Regions from separate parts of the Homo sapiens genome. Here region 2 is linked to region 1. The links come from fine-mapping of genetic effects on gene expression. A gene starts in region 1. The other region holds a variant in brackets. All regions are shown on one strand. Distances are from middle to middle.

Region 1 (5,375 bases):
TCTCTTTGGAAAACCATTCAACTTCTTTCTTTTGTTAAGCAACCTTGTATGTGTTTCACGTTCTGCCTTCTTCCCATCCTCAAGGTACCGGGCCAGGAAAGAGGTCGCTTTCATTCCAGGGAACACTGGTTAGAATGCCTCCCCTGCCTGGGCATCCAGGAACATCCCAGTGGGAATTCCTGGGCCTGCAACTTCCACGGGATCCAAATACTGATGACTGTACCCATCACGATGATGGAAAGGACCGCCAGGCGATCCCCCAAAAGGCCCACCAAATATCCGGGCTCCATTGTCACGCTCCCACCCGGGGGCGAGGATGTCTCAAAAACACCCCCCTTCCCCCGCCCCATGTGGACAGGTCGCGTCGCGGCACCCACGGGCACCGCGGAAAGGGGCATAACCGGGGTGGCCCCCGCCCAGGTGGCAGCGGAGACCCAGGGCCAGGCGGACTAGGCTTGGTCCCCACCCCTCCTCTCCGGGCCCTGCCACGGCCCCGCCCCGCCGTCAGTAGAGCCCCCGGCCCGCGGTCGGCCGGTCAGCGCACGCGCGTAGGTGTGCCTGCCAGGATGCCCTCCCCGGCGACGCGCTCAGGCCCGGATTCCGCGGCGCGAGAGTGAGCGCTGGCGGGGGCGGTGGGATGCTCCAAGTCGGCGTGAAAGAGGCGAGAGTGGGCGAGCACGGGCGGCCGGACCAGGAGCACTCCCGGTGACCACCTAGTCTCCATTTTATTTCCTCGGAAACTGCCGGGCAGGCGGGGGACCGGCCGCAGGGCGGGGTTTCTCTTGGCGGTGAGTGAGCGAGACCGTTAGGCTGAAGCACCGGGAGACTGTCCTGGCAGCTCCTGGCCGCCACCCGCGCCGCAATAAAAGCCTCTCGCGGCTTCCCGCCCAGCCAGCTTCGCACTGATTGGTCGCCGTGGGAGGGACCCGAGTTGGCTGGAGGCGGCGGCCGAGCGCTGCTCTTGTGCCGCCCGCGGAGGGGGCGCACTGGGTGCTCCCTGGCCCGCCCCGTGCGCTCCCCAACCGGGGGTCGGCCGTCCAGGGCAGGTACAACGGTACCTGGAGCTGCGACCGCGACACACAGCCCCTCCGCCCGGCTTTCCTCGATCGCTTCCCAGCACACGCCCCCCGCCCAGAATGTCCGCCCAACCCACCCAGCTCTCTGCGGCCCCTGCTTTTCTTCCTTCCCTCCCGTCCATCAGAGCCAAAGCGCAAATCCTTGGGTGGAGGTGGGGGGATGACAGCTGGAGGGGAGGGTGGGCACGCACAGAAGAATTTTCCAGGGAGGCCGGGATGGAAATAGCCAAAATGAAATGCACCTCCCTGCACACTGCCGAGGTTCTCTGGGCGGCGGCGCAACCCCCGCCACCCGCGGCAGCATCACTACTGTCTTCCTCCCAGCTCCCTATTGTTCACACTTTGCCAGGATCGGGAACCTCGCCCAAAGAAAGGAGACAGGGCGAGGTGTTTCGGGCGGCTACCTGCCATTCTTCTCCCGCCCCGTGCAACACTGGGCACGCGGCGCGTGTAAAGACACACGCGCGCACACGCGCGCGCACACACCAGGCAGCCCCAATCACGCCCTCCTCGCCCTCCGCCCCTCCGCACTTCCTCCTGTCAAAACGCGGCGCTCGACCCTCCCATCCTTCAGTGCTCGCGGCCGAGGGTAGGCTTTGCAACTAACCAGCAATTTGGCAAATGAAAAACTAACGTCATGTCGACTGGGGTGCAACAACGGTCACACCAACAACAACGGCCGTGCGATTCTGCCCATTTTGCCCCATTTTGCAAACCGTTATTCTTCTGGGGCGGGGGAAGCAAAGCAGCGATCCTGACTTTATTAGACCCAGGAATATAACGATCTGGGGCGGCTGCCCTAGCCTTATTGTTCACTCTTCCCGGAGCCGGGGCTGACAAGCCACTTCCCCCTCGGAATCCGAGCCCGTGCGGCGGCACCACCCGAGCCGCGACCTCCCCCGCCCCGCCGCCCGCCTTTGGGGAAGGAGCGCTGCCCATCACCAGCGCGGCCGCTGAGTCCCCAGGAGCCGGCCGGCTCTGCTCCCACCGCCGCGGGCGCACAAAGTGGGAAGGGCGGACGCGCCGGAGGGGCGCCGGGCGCTGGCGGCTCGGGGAGGCAGCCCCGTGCAGCGCAGCCCTGGAGGGAGCGGGGTTCGGCTGGGCAGCAAGGGCGACGCGCTCCTTTCACAGCTAAACGAAAATGACCAGCCTTAGCAGTCCACGTAAAACCACCCAAAATAATAGCGTTCCTCCTAGGAGTAGGAGGAAGGGGTAATTAGCAAACCAGATTGAGAATTAAAAAAAAAAAAAATGTACCTGCAGTTCCCAGGAAAAACAAAGTCCAGATGAGATCCTTAGTTTGCAGCATTGTAATCTGCTGGCTGGGAGGGATGTTCTTGCCGCGGTAAATTCTGTGCCCCCCCCCCTGCAGCGAGTGTGGACGGCGGCTGAGCGACAGACCTAGGGGCAGACAATTGCCAGGCTGAGTATGATTATTTTTGCAGAATTGTTTCCTGCCAGCGGCAGCCGAGCTGCGTTCACGCGCTGATCGGAGAATGAGTGACAGTCCCAGCCTCAGCACACTCGCAACTCGGAGATCCTTGCGCTGGCCCGGGTTCGTTTTGATGGAACTGGGATGGGAGCGAGGAGCGGGGGGCGGGGGTGAGAACCTCACTGTGTCCTTCCACCACGCCGGCCACAAATAGTGCCGAACATCAAGGAGGTAAGAGAGACAGGGGAGGCAGATGCGGAAGCCTGCAAAACGCGGCCTGGAGCTTTTGGGGGAGCCGGGCTCTTTCACACGCAGTCTCCCTGGGAGAGCTGGGATTTCTTTTCACACTTCTACCCTACGCCTTCGCAGGCGCTCCTGCTACCCAGCCTTCCTTAATCAGCAGTTTGCATATTTTGATAACTAGTAAATAATAAAAGCAAAATTTTAGATTTGGTTAGGTAAAGTTGTCAAATCCCTCCATTTCGATTCTAAGATCCTTGCAACACAAGGATAGCCCAGGACTTTAAGTGCGGGAAATTAGAACTTTGGAGAGGGATGGGGGTTGCCGTTGCTGGGTGTTGTTTGGATATTGTTTGTTTGTTTGTTTTATCCTAACTGTGAAGTTTGCTCTCCCACAGAGAGACATACAACACCCTTCAGCAGATCCCCTGGGAAGGAGGTGGGAAGAGACTTAAGTTAGAAGAAAACTCCGATGTTTGGAAGAGATTTCCAGAAATAACCCGAAGAAAATGTTTTCCTGTTTATAAATTCTGAAATCTGTGGTCTCTTTATTAAAATAGCCAGGCTTTTATATAGGTATTATGATATAGAAGCGTCATTAAATAATATTTTCTTACATGGGGACGTGACCTTAATTCTTAAAGATATTAATGTATAATATTACTGAGGTACCAACACAATAGGCTTTAATTAAAATTCCACCCGTGTTTTCAAAAGTAGGGGGTGGAGAAAGCGGGGTGAAAAGAATCATGTCTCAGCACCTGAAGGCTTGGGTATGTAAGGAACTAATGTGAGAAAGGTGTTCTAGATGTCAGGTTAACCCATTAGCCTAGAACACTGAAACCCTCTAACAGAGGAAGTCTGCATAAGTTCAAAGGCATTAAAGCACTAATGTTACCGGGTACTCCGTTTTTCTTCAAAGGTCGGCCTCCCCACTCCTGTAGCAGGTTTTTTGTTTTGTTTTGTTTTGTTTTGTTTCTGTTTTGTTTTTTTGAGATGGAGCCTCGCTCTGTCGCCCAGGCTGCAGTGCAGTGGCGCCATCTCTGCTCACTGCAACCTCTGCTCCCGGTTCAAGCGATTCTGCTGCCTCAGCCTCCTGAGTAGCTGGGATTACAGGCGCGCGCCACCACGCCCAGCTAATTTTTGTATTTTTAGTAGAGACGGTGTTTCACCATGTTGGTCAGGCCGGTCTCGAACTCCTGACCTCGTGATCTGCCCACCTCAGCCTCCCAAAGTGCTAGGATTACAGCCGTGAGCTACCGCACCCAGCCGCTGTAGCAGTTTTTAAAAGTCCATCCTCTACTGTCAGGACATCCATCCTTATTGGACAGGCCCCATCTCTTCCCCACTTTCCTCCTCTATAATAGACCAAGTGGGCCACACCAGTACAGTGTAATTAGCTTGGACCCCTGAAAAGTATTTCTTCCCCCAAGTAAATCTTCCACAACGTTTACTTTGGGCTATTTCTCTCATTCCAAGTATAAACAATTCAAAAGTACAGAAAAGTAGAAAGAACTAAAAATAACCCCAAATCCCACAGATTCCAGAGATACTCATAGATTTTGTCTTCTGTATGTGCATATGATTTTTATAATTGACATATTATAGTAGCAATTTGAATCCTGCTGATTTTGCCTAACATCAGTATAAGCATTTATTCCTCTGGATCATTAAAAAGCTTTTCTAGATATTTTTATAGCTATGTAATATTTCTTCATATGGATGATTTTGCAATGGTTTCCCCATTTTTGCATATTTATATTGTTTGTGGAGTTTGATAATATAAATAAGGCTTTTTTGAACATCTTTCAACAAATATTTGCGGAGCAACCACTGGGTTTAGCCCTGTGCTAGATGCAGTGAATTATATACGTCTTTTTTTAATGGTTGCTGTATTTAAGTGTCTTTGATTTCAGACTTCTGCTTCTAACATCTAAAATCACCACATTAAATATTACAGATTTATGTAAATGAATGTTATCAGACTCTTTCCTTAAAAAAGAGGTTTTGATGGTGAGGAAAGATAGAGAGAACAGGCAGGGGGTAGAGTGGGGAGAGTGAAGGTTGGGGCCCCCAAAATAAAAATTTTTCCAATTTTGCCCCTAAGAGTGAGAGACACATTCTTCCCTGCAAACCTCCCTCCTTATAGTCCTGTCAGTAGAATTAAAAGACTCCTCACTATTTTTCTCCCCAAATGTCCCTATTTTTAGCTTTTCAATGTAGGCAAGTGTGGAAATCCAATCTCACTTGAGTATGACTGAATTTCTTTTTTTTCCCTCTCTCTCTCCAGCCCCTCCCTACCCCGTGTGGTTGTTGATCTCTGTTGTAATGATTCATTCTAGAATGCTGCCCCAGTCATTCCAGTCCACACTCCCAGTATCACTCCCAAATTCTTTTAACAGGATATGTCACTTGTCTCCAATTCTGTATATCTCCGCTAGTCGGTGCCTACATCTGTGAGCTCTGTTGCGTTTCAATCCCTTCCTGATCCTCATTTTAAAATGGACAAAACTGTGGCCCTCACTGGACCTCTCTCCCCAGAGAGAGGCCCAGGCTGTCAGGCACACATTAATGAGCATCTACAAAGTGAACATCCATGGGATTGAGGCAGAGGAAGGAGACTCCAG
Region 2 (5,375 bases), 350 kb after region 1:
ACTCTAGGTGAGGCCATGAATAATTGGTCCTTTCTGGAGAGGGACTGATAATCTGTCTTTCCTGGAGCTATTACCAGGGTGGCCTGCAAGTGTTAAGAGGAGAAAATGGGGCAGTGGCCAGGGGTGGGGAGTGAGCTGAAGATAATGGAGTCGAGAGCTGCAGAGAGGTCCCCTCCGGGCAGCCAGACTGTGAATCATGGCAGTCCTGGGGGAAAATCGCACTGCCTAGCCTTCCTGCCCTGCCTCTGCGGCTGCCCCACATGGTTGCTTCCACTGGGTCTGCACCTGGGCTGTTTGGCTCTCACTGCTGGAGAGGCCTTGCCTGCCCCATGGGTATGGTGGACACACTGGCTCCCACCTATGTGGAGCAATGTGAAGGGCACCAAAAGTCTTCATCAATAACACCATGCCTGTGTCCATCAGCAGCCACTGTGGAACCTATTATGAACCTAGCACAGTGCTTGGCTCTGAGGGGCATCCAGGGAGGCAGAATACAGACCCTGTGCACATCGGCTCACCACGGGAAATGTCCACATCCCTGGCTCTGAGCAAGACCTGGACTGGCCCCCCTCAGAATCACTCCTGTAGTCTAACACCCCCCCATTAGAATGGAAAGGTGCTCCCCAGAGGTTTAATAGTCAATCCTCATAAGTGCATAGCATCCATAGTTTGTGGTGCATTTTTATGTTCATTATCTCATTTAATCCTTAAAATTATTTTATGAATTTGTTGTAGAAATAGAAACTTAAGTAAGAGATTCCTTTAAGGTCATGGATCTGAAAAGTGGTGAGGCTGCAATTCAAACCCAGAATTTTCTAAGAACATTGTCTTTCTTCTTTCTTATTCCCCTACTCCATGCCTATGGGGAAAAAAGGTAAACTCTGATGTGGTGAGAGGTCAGGGGTTGTGGGAATGGGCTGAGAAGAGGGTCAAGCTGGGCAGGATGTCGCCATGGGTGGCTCTGAGCAACCACATGAGTCTGAGGACCTGGGATTCTGCAAACTGCTGAAAAGGGAGAGAGCTGTCAGCCAGGCCTAGATATGTTTGTTCGTATTTCTCCCTTGAACTGAGCCTGCTAGAGATACAATTCCCAGATGGGCATAAGGACATGGACACTTGGGTAGGAATGATACAGAGTTGAATTAGGTGGTATTTGCTTTGTTTCTTTGGATCTCTCAGAGCAGTGACATTGATTTAGTGTCACTGTGCACAGTACTGGATGTCGTCGGAAGCCTATGATCTAGGAATTCACCATGCCTCTTCCATGGCTTTTTTTTCCCTCCACTGGGGAGGGGTCAAGTGCCTTCCTTTGCTCTGCAACTCTCCACTGTGCTTGGGAAGGTAGGTGCCCCCCAGCCCCATCAACCCTCCCTCTGACAGGGTAGCTAAGTGTCCCATTTGCCTCAGGAAAGAGCATTTGACTCAATAAACAGTACTGGTCTTGTTCAGGTACACTCCTTTTTCTGTGTCCTAGGTAGAATTCATATTTCCCATTACTTAAGCCCTTCTTAAGCCCTTTTGATCTTTGCTCTTTTGGTTTGGTTTTCCTGGGCTGCTCACCACAAAATTGCTGCCCTCTTAATAATACGAAAGATGCCCCATAGTGACCTGCCCAGTGTCTGTGTGTGTGTGTGTGTGTGTGAAGAGAGAGAGACCATGCTGCTTCTATTCCTCAGGTTGAGATATGACAGCTTCCTGTGAGACCCTTGAAATCCCCAAGGTGTTTTCCTATGGGGTTGTTCAGATGGCCAACACAGAAAGATCTCTGCATACACACTCACGCCCTGGAATCTGCACAATGAATGGCTGTCCCAGCAGGACCAGGATTGGGCGTTGTGTTGATTCCAAACACCCCACAGCACTTCCTTTTCTCCAGCTTATCTCTCATGGAGAAGACCTGAAGCCTGTTTCCTTGACAACCAGTCTCCCTCTTTCCCCATATTTTTTATTGCTGTGGTTATAAGGTGTATTTAAACCCAGCAGCCATGTTCCCATGGTGATAGAAGACCCCCAGTAAGTTGCCATGGGAACAAGAGATGTCTTTGAAAGAGGATAAAAGTAAGTCAGCTTTGCAAGCGATGACAGCAAAGTTAGAATCTAGAGAGGCTGGAGAATATGGCTCAAGCAGGTATCAGGTCATGGTTAATAGCCCAGCCTATTCTACCTGTGACCAGCCTCAGGTCATGGGGGGCAGAGAGGTGACACCAAGCTTCCTGCTCTGTTCACAAGAAGACTATGAGCAAAGCAATATGACTGCTGGAATTTAAAAACAAGTTCTCTCCAGTTGCTCTTATTTGCTATTTAATCCTTTGTCTCTCTTCTTCTGAAAGGTTTTTAGAGATAGAGGAACTAGGTGGGGCAGCTGAACTGAAAGACCAGGATGATGAAGGCATTTGTTCTTTTTAGCTGTTTCATAACAGGAAAGAAGTCACTTCTGAGTTCTGAGATCTGATGCCCTTACAAACAACAAGCATTATTTCCATTTTGTTTTTCCCTCAACATTTTGTTATTAGTATTTCCAAACATACAGCAAAGTGAGAAGAATTGGCAGTTAACATCATATACCTATCATTTAGTTTCTACTATCAACATATTACTACATTTGCTCTGTCATCTGTCTACCCATCTATCCACT[G/T]ATTTTTCCCTTAACTAAGAACTAGTTAGTGAATAAACTAGCATTCATACCAGAATAGTTTCTTGCCAAAGCATGTTTCCTTTCCATTATACTGCACTTAGGGTGACCAACCATCCCAGTTTGCCTAGGACTAAGAGGATTCCCAGGAATCCTGAGACTTTTGGTTTTAACACTGGTACAGCCCAAGAAGTTGTTTACCCCAATCCCTGCACAGTATGCTTTGGGAAATTTAGGGTTTGATTAAGGAGTAAGGGGCCCTGAGCAAGCAAGCACACAACTACCTATATAAACAACTGTAAGTAGAAAGAGAGACAGAGCCAAGTGTTGGAAAGGATATAGAGCTAGTGGAACACTCATAGACTGTCAGTAGGAGTGTCAATTGTTGTAGTCACTTTAGAACATGATTTGGAAGGATCTACCAAAGCTAGACACACACATAGCCTATGACTCAGTGATGCCACTCTAGGTGTACCCAAGAGAAATGAGAATATATGTTCACTAAAACAACAACAACTAAAAATCTAAAAGAATGTTCAAGGCAGCTTTATTCTTATTAGCCCAAACTAGAAACAACCCAAATGTTCATCAACAGAATAAATAAATTCTGTAAATGCATATAATGGAGTACTACATGATATTAAAGATAAAAAACTTTCTGACACGCACAACAGCATGGATGAACCTTAAAGACATAATGTTGAATGAACAAAAGCCAGACACAAGAATTTATACTATATGAGTCCATTCATATGAAACTGCAGAAAAAAAAATCTCACTACCATGATAGAAGTGAGTGATGGGCTTGGGCCTGGGGAGTGGGGTAGAATGGACTGAGAAACGGACAAGAGGAAGCCCTCCCAGGAGGCTTGATGTGTTGTTCAACTTGACCTGGGTTGAACTTGAGCTCTGTAGCTCTCTACTGTGCTTGGGAAGGTAGGTGCCCCCCAGCCCCATCAACCCTCCCTCTGACAGGGTAGCTGGCTGACTGAGTGTCCCATTTGCCTCAAGAAAGAGCAGATGACTCAGAATAAACAGGACTGGTCTTGTTCAGGTACACTCCTTTTTGTGTGTCCTAGGTAGGATTTTCTGTGTCCTAGGTAGGGGATTATCAGACGTCTTCCTATAGAAGCACTCATTGAGGCTGTATATGTGAGATTAGTGTACAGTTTCCTCTGTGCAGGTTATGTCTGAATTTAAAAGTTTTCAAAAAGACAGACATTAGAACTCCAAAAACTAAAACAAGAGTAAAAAGGATATAGACAGAGTAGCAAATACTAAAGCTGACAGAGAAAGAGAAAACTGCAGTGTGATTGCCAGTAAACCCAGAAGGGGCTGAAAAACACTAAAGCGTGCTACCTAATTACTCTTTCACTCCAGAAATGTGATCCATGGAGTCTGTCAGGACCAGAGATTTCACATCTCACTACAAAGACCCAGAGCAAGTTGCCTGCAATGGAAAGATACTTTAAGAGAAGAAAAGTCATTTTCTGTCCTTAAACAGGAAGGAACAAAAGATTATCTCTCCTGTCTGAACTGAGGGGTTATTTGAGAAAAACACTCAGGAATTACCCATGGGTAGGCTTTTAGGAAATTAAAATCTGCAAATAAGCTGGGCACAGTGGCTCACACCTATAATCCCAGTGCTTTGGGAGGCCAAGGCGGGAGGATCATTTAAGGCCAGGAGTACAAGACCAGCCTGGGCAACATAGCAAGACCCCCATCCCTACAAAAAAAAAAAAAAAATTTTAATTGTCCAGGTGTGGTGGCATGTACCTGTAGTCCCAGCTACTTCAGAGGCTGAGATGGAAGGATCGTTTGAGCCCAGGAGTTCAAAGCTACAGTGAACTATGATCATACCACTGCACTCTAGCTTGGACAACAGAAAGAGCCCTTGTCTTTTTTAAAAATAAAAAAAATCTGGATACAAAGAAAAGGTTGTTTCTGTGTTTCCCACCTCTGAAGAAGGAATCTACTCTGGGAAATTTCCACTCCCTACAATAGGAGTAGTATCTGCTGGGGACAGGTGCGTGCACGGTCTGAGTCACCTCCAACTCTGCACATGTCTGGAGCCAGCACTGTGGGGGTGGGAGGACAGGAACCACATCTGTGTCTTCCGGGTATACCTGCCAAGCTTTCAACCAGTTTCGAGGTGCCCTCAAAGTCAGGGCCAGCCGTTTGGAAGCCTGGGCCATTGCACTGACCTTCCCTCCCCAGGTATTCTACTCCTCGGCAATGAGAGAACATATCAACTCATCCTGCTCTGGGGAGGTCCCAGGTCCCTCAGCAACCACCCCCTACAAATAAAGCCTTTCCTCTCCCGCAGAGAGCCAGGGAAGACAGGGTAGGACTTCTCACCCTCCTGGCCCCTCCATCCCAGATACCTTGGCTGCATCATTTCATTTTTCATTTTGTCTGGATTAATTTTGCATTGCTGCATGATTCACACTTCCTGTCTGGCTTCCAAAGCACATAACTAGAGGATCCCTCTGGAGAGGAATGCCGATTAATACCTTTAACATGCCTGCTTCTGATGGGGAGAGCAGTAAAAATACATATTTTCATATTACATCTATATTCATCTATATATTTTTAACATGTCATTGTGCCACTTTGTACAGAATTGTCATTTTAAGTGGTGATTTGGCCTCACTCCAGGGATTGATGCATCAGGGTCAGGTGGCCTCTGAGGCAGCTGTAATTTTTATGCTGAGCTCCCATCATAGGAGGAGTTAGCCTGGGG

Which allele goes with the higher level. Positions count from the first base shown, and alleles are read on the strand shown. Sizes are in standard deviations (SD) of each study's normalised expression.
In carriers of allele G in region 2, the expression in pancreas of the gene that starts at base 2,578 in region 1 tends to be higher than with T alone (moderate effect, 0.44 SD a copy in GTEx).

Evidence for each region. PIP is the estimated chance that this variant, and not a neighbour inherited with it, causes the effect.
Region 2: its variant is the best candidate, but not a certain one, in a credible set for the expression of NCAM1 in pancreas (GTEx, PIP 0.56).

The regions. Positions count from the first base shown.
Region 1 is chr11:112,958,623-112,963,997 of GRCh38, reverse strand. NCAM1 (neural cell adhesion molecule 1) reads right to left here and starts at 2,578. Exons shown (of 20, transcript NM_181351.5): 1 at 2,334-2,578. The coding sequence starts at 2,385. It overlaps NCAM1-AS2 (NCAM1 antisense RNA 2), which reads left to right and starts at 538. Exons shown (of 3, transcript NR_120563.1): 1 at 538-788; 2 at 2,522-2,631; 3 at 3,147-4,719. RefSeq lists an enhancer at 1,858-2,635.
Region 2 is chr11:112,613,106-112,618,480 of GRCh38, reverse strand. No RefSeq gene overlaps it. Among named protein-coding and RNA genes, the nearest start is that of LINC02764, 60 kb to the right of the region's middle. The variant G/T (reference allele first, on the strand shown) is at 2,636.